Linked DNA regions of Homo sapiens: region 1 is linked to region 2. The links come from fine-mapping of genetic effects on gene expression. Tissue or cell type: gastroesophageal junction. Region 2 holds a variant in brackets; the other region holds the start of a gene. All regions are shown on one strand. Distances are between the middles of the regions.

Region 1 (5,000 bases), 99 kb after region 2:
TGAGGTCAGGAGTTGGAGACCAGCCTGACCAATATGGTGAAATGCCATCTCTACTAAAAATACAAAAATTATCCGGGCATGGTGGCCGGCACCTGTAATCCCAGCTACTCGGGAGGCTGAGACAGAAGAATTGCTGGAACCTGGAAGGCGGAAGTTGCAGTGAGCCGAGATCATGCCACTGCACTCCAGCCTGGGCGACAGAGCAAGACTCTGTCTCAAAAAAGAAAAAAAAAAAATATCTTTAGATAAACACCAAAACATGAAGGAAGGAAATGGAAACTACTTACAAATATTAGTCCTGATATCAATGAAGAGGTCCCTGTAAGTGCCACATAGAATTTGGGTGTCAATGAATTTAAAAATACAGTCACTGTCAAAAGAACAAGAATCAAAGTTTTAAAAAATGCAAATTTAAAGTACTTAGGTTACAAATATGCAAGTATCTTTATGAGTGGTGGGACTTAAGTAGTATTAATATCTAGTGTGAAATTCACTTGAAAAAGTTTTAATTTGTATATATATTATACATAATGGCTTATCACTATTTGCAACAAATCAAAATGAGGTAATTCAGCTTGCTTTGGAGAATAAAACTAAAGCACTTATAAGTCATAATTTAGATAGAACTTTTGCAAGTCTGTAAGAATAAAAAGATAAATATGCTTTTACAAAGGAGGTTCAAAACTACTCCATATTTATTTTGGTAGGATACAAAACCACTGTCTCAAATTAGAGGGAAGGAAACAGCATATGTATTTGGTATATCAGCTAGAGAGGCAAAATGGCTCAAAGAGAAAAGCAACAAACAGAAATCTCCCTGAGTTACTGAAATCCTGGAGCAGATTTTTCACTTCAAATAATTATCTCATAAGTACTGTGGGTTTTAGAAAGAAAATAAAAATCTGGCCAGGTAGGATGGCTCACTCCCATAATCTCAGAGTTTTGGGAGGCCAAGGCAGGAGGATCACTGGTAGCCAGAAGTTCAAGACCAGCCTGGGCAAATAAAATAGACCCAGTCTCTACGCAAAATTTAAAACTCAGCCAGTCGTGGTGGTGCACGCCTGCAGTCCCAGCTACTTGGGAGGCTGAGGCCAGAGGATCGCTTAAGCAGAAGAGTTCAAGGCTGCAGTGATCTTGCCACTACACTTCAGCCTGGGTGACAAAGGGAGACTCTGTCTGTCTTTCTCTCTCTCACACACACACACACACACACACACACACACACACACACGAAACGTAAAAAAGAAAAATCTATAGTAATCAACTATTCTCATCTAAATGTTGCATATGGTTAACGTAGAAAAATAAATGACAAGTCAATCAGTAACACTGTGCATAGAAACCACCGTTAAGCACTTCATTCACCTGTTACAGAGATGCCAAATTAGCTCTTCAGTTTAGCTTATTTTAGAGTGCTAGTTATATTTGAACTTGATACCTATCCTCCAAAAAAACCAAAATATTTCCGAACATTAACTCACAGTCTTTCATGTCATCTCTGAACAGGAAAGGGGACATTTGCTGCCTTTTGCTTCAGAAAAATCAACCACCATACTGAATCATGTAATGGAAATACTTATATCTTGTTCTGAGGTTGCTGCTCAGATCTTGAGTGAAATATAATCACATGGTAAGGGGACCTGGGCCCTAAACACTTCATCCTGTCTACAGCTAAAGAATAGTACAGTATATGAGAATCCATCAGGATCATCACTTCTTACATGTGTTCGTATTGTCAGCACAGAATACGTAGCAAGTGTTCTACAGACGTCGAAAGAACTAGCAAACCCACTGTTGTTTGTGGCGCTCTCACTTCCTGTACTATTTTATTACTCAAGATAAGCCTAAAAGAACAGACAAAACTATCACGAAAACGATTTCTTAACAGAACTATTTTAAAACAAGAGAATCCTCAATTAAAATCATGCCATTTTCTTTCTCTGAAATCTTTAAATTACAGATGTGCTCATCTTTGTTGCCTGGATATGAGTTCTTTCAGCTGGGCAGCGGGAGACTCAAAGTAGTGACTTTTAAGGGATCCTACCAGAGGTGGGGGAGCCAATATAAATTACGTATCCTAATCTGAGACACTCTTCTGTCCTAATACCTGAAGCTTATAGCTTGTCAGGTGGCTTTTCCATGGAAAAACGAGGACATAAGAGAGAGGGCGGACCTTAAGAGTTCTACGGAGGAGCCGGTAACGGCAGCAGGCTTGTCAATCAACTGCAAGGTTGCAGCCCAAAAGAAAAAGAACTCACTTGATCGCTCATCATCGACTCCTCAGAGGCCCTCTAGGACTACCGAGAATCTCTTGCCCTTTGGCTCTTGCCCCCGACATCTCTCCTGGCCCCCCGCCCTGCCCCAGGAGGTCTGGTCCTCTCACCCGCTGCCAAATTCTCACACAGCCTCAAAGGGATCCTCAGGGCGTAAAGCAGCCCCAGCCCCGCCACGAACCACAACGAGGCCCCAGTCCCCGCCAGCCCGGCCCGCAGTCGCTCCCTCCAGCCTAGCGTCGGGTTTAGGCCAGGGACAGATGCAGGAGACGCTCCAACAGCTGCGGCTTCACCCACGCCGCCACGGTCCGCCATCTTGCCGCTATCGCAGGCGCCAGGAGCTGGGAGGGGAGAAGGACAGGAAACCGGGAGTCGGGAATCCTGGGATAGTGGCGGACCTGAAGTTGGCCTCTGTGAAGGCTGAGTCCTGGGGAACCGGGACCGAGAAGATTTCGAAGGTGGAGGAGCGTGTCTCAAGATTGGGGCTACCTGTTCTTTCGTGGGGCAGGGAAGGGGCGGACAGCAGCGCCTATTCTGGAGGAACTGGACTGAGATGTGACCCCGAAGTGTTACCGCTTCCAAACGAAATGAGGGTCACCTTTCACACCGCCCCCCCCCCGGGGTTGGAAAAGCCACCGATCGTTCCAGCTGCCGAGCAGCTCTTAAAGCTTTGGATTCGGCTGTCGTGGAGATAACGGGCACCAGAAAAACTTGTAGGAGTAGCAACAGCTATTTGGTCGGATGGAGGCCAGAAGCCAAGAATAATCGAAACACGCTGCCAGCGCCCATTAGATGGATGGGAAATGAGTGTAACTCATTGGGAAAGATATTAGACTTCAAATCACCTAAGGCAAACCCTACTTCCTGGGGCGCGGGCGCGGGCGCTGGCGTTAGGAGACGTCACTCCCGCGCATAACTGACATGGGGCCCTCTTGGTCGGCGTTTCCGGGCGGGTCCTTCCGACGGCCGCCGCGGTGATTCCATCACTCGGCTTTCTTCCCGGCCTGCCTCGCGCCCGTAGCCGGGCTGGGCCAGAACAGCCCAAGATGGCCGACTTCGATGATCGTGTGTCGGATGAGGAGAAGGTAAGGGGTCCGCCTCTCTCTCTTACCTCCTCCCCCGACAGGGAACTGGGGCCCGGCCCGGCTGCGTTGGGAGCCTAGCAGTGTCCCCAGGAAAAAGAAGCTTCTTGGTCCATGCTGACATACGCTCTCCGCAGTCGGGACGCTTCCCTCTTAGGGGGCTTTCCTCTGCCTCACGGTGGCCCCAGTTCCTCGTTCCTCGACTCTCCTTTTCTCTCAGGCCTGAGGCACAGCCCAGGGGCCTCCCTGCAAGGGAACAGACGTTTCCTTTATTGGATCGTGACTGTGGACTTTTTTCTGTAATTTTGCGAGAGGGTGGTGGTTATGTTGCGACATATCAAAAAGCAGTTATTTTACCGCCTTTAGCAGTTGGGGCTCACCCCATCCCCCCATTTGTAGATATAATTGGGGTTAGTTTAGGGCGAGTCACTTCCTGGTCAGGATGGCCTCTTAACTTCCCTTTTGCTCCTCCTTCCTCAGGAAGTGATTTTGCTGTCACGACTCTTCGACAAGGAGAGGTCCCAAATGTTGTCCATCTCCCTACACATGCACTACTTTTCTCCTGTACTGTCGCCTGTCTGATTCGCTATAATAAATCTGTGAGCCTCAGGGCATTTGCTTCAGAATTTGAACACCAGTCTTTCCCTATAGACACATCCCTTTTAACGATAATTTTTGAAAATTTTGTTTCTTGTTAACAAATCTAGAATAGCTGATGGATTTTCTTAACCTCCAGAAAGGTTTTCTGTAACACATAATAAACCTTATGTTAACACGTTCAAGACTGAACAAAGCATCCTGCCTTCTTTGATGCTCCACTGTGGAGTCTTTGATCAGTTGAATTTGTCAGTGTGCATTTTGTATGCTCATTTCTTGAAAAGGGTCTTAAATACAAGAGCACATTCTAAGGTGGAATAACTTTTCTTCTGACAGTTGCACAGTTTCATAACAGTTTGTCAGGCTTTTCAGTAAGTACATGGTTTTAGGGCACGTAGAACTTAGAATGACCTCACAAGGCAACTTATTGGACAAGAATTATGACATTTGTCTCCCACTGTGGCTATTAGAAAATGTGTCCCCTTGAGTGCTCTGTAAATCTACCTGGGTGTTTTTTTCAATAAGAAGTTGGGATGGGAAGGGGACTGTTATGATCCATAAGTCCTCTGTACGGAATAACTTGATATATGTAGATATGGCATGCCATTTTGAAATGTTTAACAAGCCATTGACAACAGCGTTAGATTTTCTCTTATTTGGAAACTGATCTTCATACATGTTTAAGATTTAGGACAAAAACATTTATGTATAAGCCTATGCTGGAAATCGATCTATAATAAATTGTTCTAAGGCAAATAGTTACTATTCAAATAAAATTAAGCAAAAATCCTGTTACAATACAACTAAACAATTTTTTTTTTTTTTTGAGACGGAGTCTCGCTCGGCTCACTGCAACTTCCGCCTCCCTGGTTCAAATTATTCTCCTGCCTCAGCTTCCCGAGTAGCTGGGATTACAGGCACCCGCCACCAAGTCCAGCTAATTTTTGTATTTCTTGTAGAGAGTGGGTTTCGTCTTGTTGCCCAGGCCGGTCTCAAACTCTTGGGCTCAAACGATCCATCCGTCTTCGCCACTTAAAGTGCTGGGATT
Region 2 (5,000 bases):
TAGTAGGTGGGAAAGCACATGATCTGTCCCAGGGACAGAGAACAGACCAATCTGCTGGGTAAAGGTTCTCTCTAAGGGAGATTAAAGCTAGAAAGATGTCCTTGAAAGGCTTTATCCAGTGTGCTGCCATTGAAGATTCTGAAACAGCTGAAAAAGAAACGAAGAAGAGATCCCTACCAAAGGCAGGTAAAGCAGCAAATGGTTGTTTTTCAGTCTGTTCGAGGTATTTGTGGTGGGATTCTTGGAGGTGCTGGAAGTTGATATGGTTTTTCCCCAAGGGAATGAAAGTTACCATCCTGGCTCACATTTCTGGTTCAGATAGGTTAAACTAGGAACATGCAATGCAGCAGAACTCTTCTCCTCTGGTTATTGCTGTGGGGCTCCCAGGCTCTTTTCTACAGGCTCAGCGTCAGGACTTGGGTGAAGTGGAGCCAAAAAACCTCAGCTATCTTCGGTACTGTTTGTTTTCACCCATCACTGTCATTCCTGGAAGAGTCAAGTGGCTTGGAGTAAAACTGGGCACAGAAAAAGGGTGGGGCTCTACCCAATTAATGAAGAAAGTAGTCTGTATACTTTGTAGGGTGCTAGAAGAAAAAAACTTGGAGCCCTTCTGATTTTCCTAGTGATTTCCTGCCACTAAGTATACTTTCCTCCCACTTGGTCTAATTCAGAGGGTCACTCTCTGGATACCTAGAAATAATTCCATAACATCTGAGGTGTAAACCTATACTACCATACTGAAAATACACCTTTAGGGAAGGAACTTTGGAGTTAGGAGGGAGGATAAGTCAAATGTGTGTTCGTTTTTCTCAGAGGCATAAAATTAGGCCTCCTAAAACCCAAAGTGGGCCCTGGAATTCAAAGAATATAAGTCATCCCAGAAAGAATATGGAGCCAGGAATTCCCTCCAAAGCAATAGAGTCCAATTGAACTTTCTGTGATGATAGAAATGTTTTCCTATCTCTGTTGTCCAATACAGTAGCAACTAGCCACATGTGATTACTGAGTACTTGGAATATAACTAGTGTGACTGAGGAGCTAAATTTTTTAGTTTAATTTTCATTAATTTAGATGTAAAAGACCATATGTGACTAGTGGCTGCTACCCTGGACAGCACAGCTCCACAGTGTAGAAGGGGTTTTTGGTGCCCAAGAGGACTTAAGACCCAGCCCTTGGAGTTAGGAGACTAACATATACAGTAGACCTAGTCAGTCCACATTCCAGACCAGTGGTCTCCTAACATTCTGGATCCTTTACTCCTATCATTAAAACAATTTGAGCATATATCTCCATTATATGTATATTTATTTATACCTGTGTTCCACTATATGAATATGTATATTATAAAACGTAAATATTTTAAATTGATGAGATAAAAAACATAGAAGTTCTAGCATTTTCCTCCCGTATCCCAGTGACATTTGGAGACTAATTCTGTAGAAATCAGTTAATCTATTCTCCGTTTTGAACCTAGGCTAGTCAGTTTCCCATCTCTGGATTCTTATTAACCATGGAAAAGCTTGGAGTAGATGCTCTCATGGGCCCAACTCATCCAAAAGTCTATTGATTTTATGATCTGTTGGCAGGATCTCTTTTGCTAAAATCAGTCAGAATGAGGTTCTAAGCATTCCCTATGCATGGGGAAAACATGATCCCTATCCTAGAGTTTCCACTGTAAGGGGAAGGGATAATGCTTAGGGATAATAGCAATAATAATAATGCAAGGGATATTACTTAGGAATTCCTTAGGAATATGCCTCCAGCCAGTCATGGTAATCAGTTCACCTCTTCAGATGAACAGAGATTATATCTAACAATCTATTATTGTGCTTATTTTCATATGAGAAACTAAGTTAATGTTTCATTTTGACTAAATCACACAACTAAGAGTGGTAGAACTGGGATTTGAATCCAGACAAGATGATGTCAGAGCCCATGCTTCTTTTTTTTTTTTTTTTTTTTGGAGACAGAGTTTCACTGTCACCCAGGCTAGAGTGCAGTGGTGCAATCTTGGCTCACTGCAGCCTCGACCTCCCAGCCTCGTGTTACTTTCACCTCAGCCTCCTGAGTATCTAGGACTACAGGCTCATGCCCATGGCACCTGGCTAATTTTTTAAGTTTTTGTAGAGACAGGGCTTGCTATGTTTCCCAGGCTGGTCTTGAATTCCTGGACTCAAGGATTCCTTCTGCCTTGGCCTTCCAAAATGCTGGGATGATAGGCATGAGTGAGCCACTGTGCCCAGCCCAAAAAAGCGATTCTTTTTATCTTCCTTCTGAGAATGTGGTTAAGGGTATCCAGGGCAGCTGAAGAGATAACTTTGTTCTCACTCCCTCTCTTCCCCAACCCAGGTTCCCTAGGCACTGCAGGCCGTGTCTGCAGCAAGACATCAAAAGGAACAGACGGTTGTGAAATCATGTGCTGTGGCCGAGGGTACGACACAACTCGAGTCACCCGTGTTACCCAGTGTGAGTGCAAATTCCACTGGTGCTGTGCTGTACGGTGCAAGGAATGCAGAAATACTGTGGACGTCCATACTTGCAAAGCCCCCAAGAAGGCAGAGTGGCTGGACCA[A/G]ACCTGAACACACAGATACCTCACTCATCCCTCCAATTCAAGCCTCTCAACTCAAAAGCACAAGATCCTTGCATGCACACCTTCCTCCACCCTCCACCCTGGGCTGCTACCGCTTCTATTTAAGGATGTAGAGAGTAATCCATAGGGACCATGGTGTCCTGGCTGGTTCCTTAGCCCTGGGAAGGAGTTGTCAGGGGATATAAGAAACTGAGCAAGCTCCCTGATTTCCCGCTCTGGAGATTTGAAGGGAGAGTAGAAGAGATAGGGGGTCTTTAGAGTGAAATGAGTTGCACTAAAGTACGTAGTTGAGGCTCCTTTTTTCTTTCCTTTGCACCAGCTTCCCGATACTTCTTGGTGTGCAAGAGGAAGGGTACCTGTAGAGAGCTTCTTTTTGTTTCTACCTGGCCAAAGTTAGATGGGACAAAGATGAATGGCATGTCCCTTCTCTGAAGTCCGTTTGAGCAGAACTACCTGGTACCCCGAAAGAAAATCTTAGGCTACCACATTCTATTATTGAGAGCCTGAGATGTTAGCCATAGTGGACAAGGTTCCATTCACATGCTCATATGTTTATAAACTGTGTTTTGTAGAAGAAAAAGAATCATAACAATACAAACACACATTCATTCTCTCTTTTTCTCTCTACCATTCTCAACCTGTATTGGACAGCACTGCCTCTTTTGCTTACTTGCTGCCTGTTCAAACTGAGGTGGAATGCAGTGGTTCCCATGCTTAACAAATCATTAAAACACCCTAGAACACTCCTAGGATAGATTAATGTAGTAAGTCTGGCTAGGCCTTGTGTTGCCTTTTTTTTTTTTTTTTTTTTCTTTTCTTTTCTTCTCTTCCCATGCACTATTCTGGAGGTTTGCCAGGTTTGGGGAGACATGGAGTAAAAGAAAGATAGGCAACTCATGGATGGTGGGAGAGCAGGTAAGCAGGTCTGATCTCAAGGGCCCACATGAGGCATCAGTATATATTAGGCAGGTAGGGATCTCTGGCTTTGGTAATTCTTTATGAGAGGATCCTAGCCTTTGAAGCTGGGAGCAGGAGTCAGTGGCTACAGTGGGAAGGAGTACTGCAGGTTGGGGCCAAAGTGATACACAGCTTAGAAGGCAGCCTTCCTCCACTTACTCAACAAATCTTTATTTAGTGACTCTCCAAGTCCTAGTGATTATTATTATTGTTCACTCCACATTTGGCTTAATGGGTAATGCTATTACCCATTGCCTAACTAGGTTTGCAGTAGTGGAATCTCCAGAGATAGCAGGCTTAGTAAGCTGGAGGTAGGACATGAAGTCCCCCAAAACTTGATGTCCTATTTTTATGTGAGTTGGACAGTGGTTATCTTTTGCCTGTTGATATCTTAAAGCAGCAGAGTGGTATAGAAATTTGCGGTTATGACAGACCCGGGTTAAAAATCACAGCTGTGCCATTTGCTTTGATATTTTGAGCAAGGTAGCTAAATTTTCTGAGCTTCTATTTTCTCATCTGTAAAATGAGGATACGTACCTGTTCTTTTTTTTCTTTCTTTTTATTTCTTTTAGAGATAGGGTCTCGCTTTGTTGCCCAGGCTGGAGTGCACTGGCATGATCATGGCTCACTGCAGCCTCAAATTCCCAGGCTCAAGCAATCCTCCCACCTCAGCCTCCCCATTAGCTGGGACTACAGGGCCATGCCATCATGCCCAGCTAATTTAAACATAGTTTTCAGAGATGGAGCTCACTATGTTGCCCAGGCTGGTCTTGAATTCTTGGTCTCAAGCAATCCTCCCACTGCAGCCTTCCAAAGTGCTGGGCGTACAAGCGCAAGCCACTGTGCCCAGCTGTCAGACGCTGAGTTTTAATTATGCACCAAACTCCAGCCCGCAGATCCTCTTCACCAAAGCCCCTGGCTGGTCTAGCCCATCATGACTTCTCTAGGAACAGTCCTTCTTTAGGACTATAAAGTATTAACAAAAGTCTGTAGATTAAGGAGCCTGCATAAAGAATTCTGGATACAGGCCCCTGTCTTTCCAAAGTTCCTCTCCAATATCCCTTGGGGTCCTCATGTTTTTGAAGCAGCTTCACTCTGCACAGGCAGCAGGAGGTTGGGGGAGCCATAGCTCTGGGCCACGGGGGCAGATTTATTTGGATGATAGGACTAATATTTGTGTAACCTGCTGAGACCTGTGTGGGAGAGTTTAGGGTGGTTTTTCTTTTGGTGAGGGGATTTGCTCTGGTTTCACATCCATTAACACAAAACATGAGCTAGTCAGGGCCCTTGTGGTCTGCGGTAAGGGGATGCCTGTGGAGAAATGGGCCTGAGTGAGTCAGGCCAAGAGAATGTCTTCCTTCAGAATGGAGTCAACTGGATAACTGATGAGCCAATGGTGGGATTAAGGAGGGGGAAATGGGAGGGGAAGAGAACAGCTGACATCTTGAGGAAA

Direction of the effects. Alleles are on the strand shown, and positions count from the first base shown. SD is a standard deviation of normalised expression in the study named.
In carriers of allele G in region 2, the expression in gastroesophageal junction of the gene that starts at base 2,616 in region 1 tends to be higher than with A alone (moderate effect, 0.56 SD a copy in GTEx).

Evidence for each region. PIP is the estimated chance that this variant, and not a neighbour inherited with it, causes the effect.
Region 1: it holds the start of ST7L, and the variant in region 2 is fine-mapped to the expression of ST7L in gastroesophageal junction (GTEx, PIP 0.95).

What each region holds. Positions count from the first base shown.
Region 1 is chr1:112,616,526-112,621,525 of GRCh38, forward strand. It overlaps ST7L (suppression of tumorigenicity 7 like), which reads right to left and starts at 2,616. Exons shown (of 15, transcript NM_017744.5): 1 at 2,384-2,616; 2 at 288-370. The coding sequence starts at 2,588. It overlaps CAPZA1 (capping actin protein of muscle Z-line subunit alpha 1), which reads left to right and starts at 3,307. Exons shown (of 10, transcript NM_006135.3): 1 at 3,307-3,358. The coding sequence starts at 3,320. RefSeq lists enhancers at 2,580-2,679, 2,788-3,987, 3,140-3,589.
Region 2 is chr1:112,517,931-112,522,930 of GRCh38, forward strand. WNT2B (Wnt family member 2B) reads left to right here. Exons shown (of 5, transcript NM_024494.3): 5 at 2,350-5,000. The coding sequence ends at 2,579. It also overlaps a transcript of ST7L not described here. Among named protein-coding and RNA genes, the nearest start is that of WNT2B, 11 kb to the left of the region's middle. The variant A/G (reference allele first, on the strand shown) is at 2,573.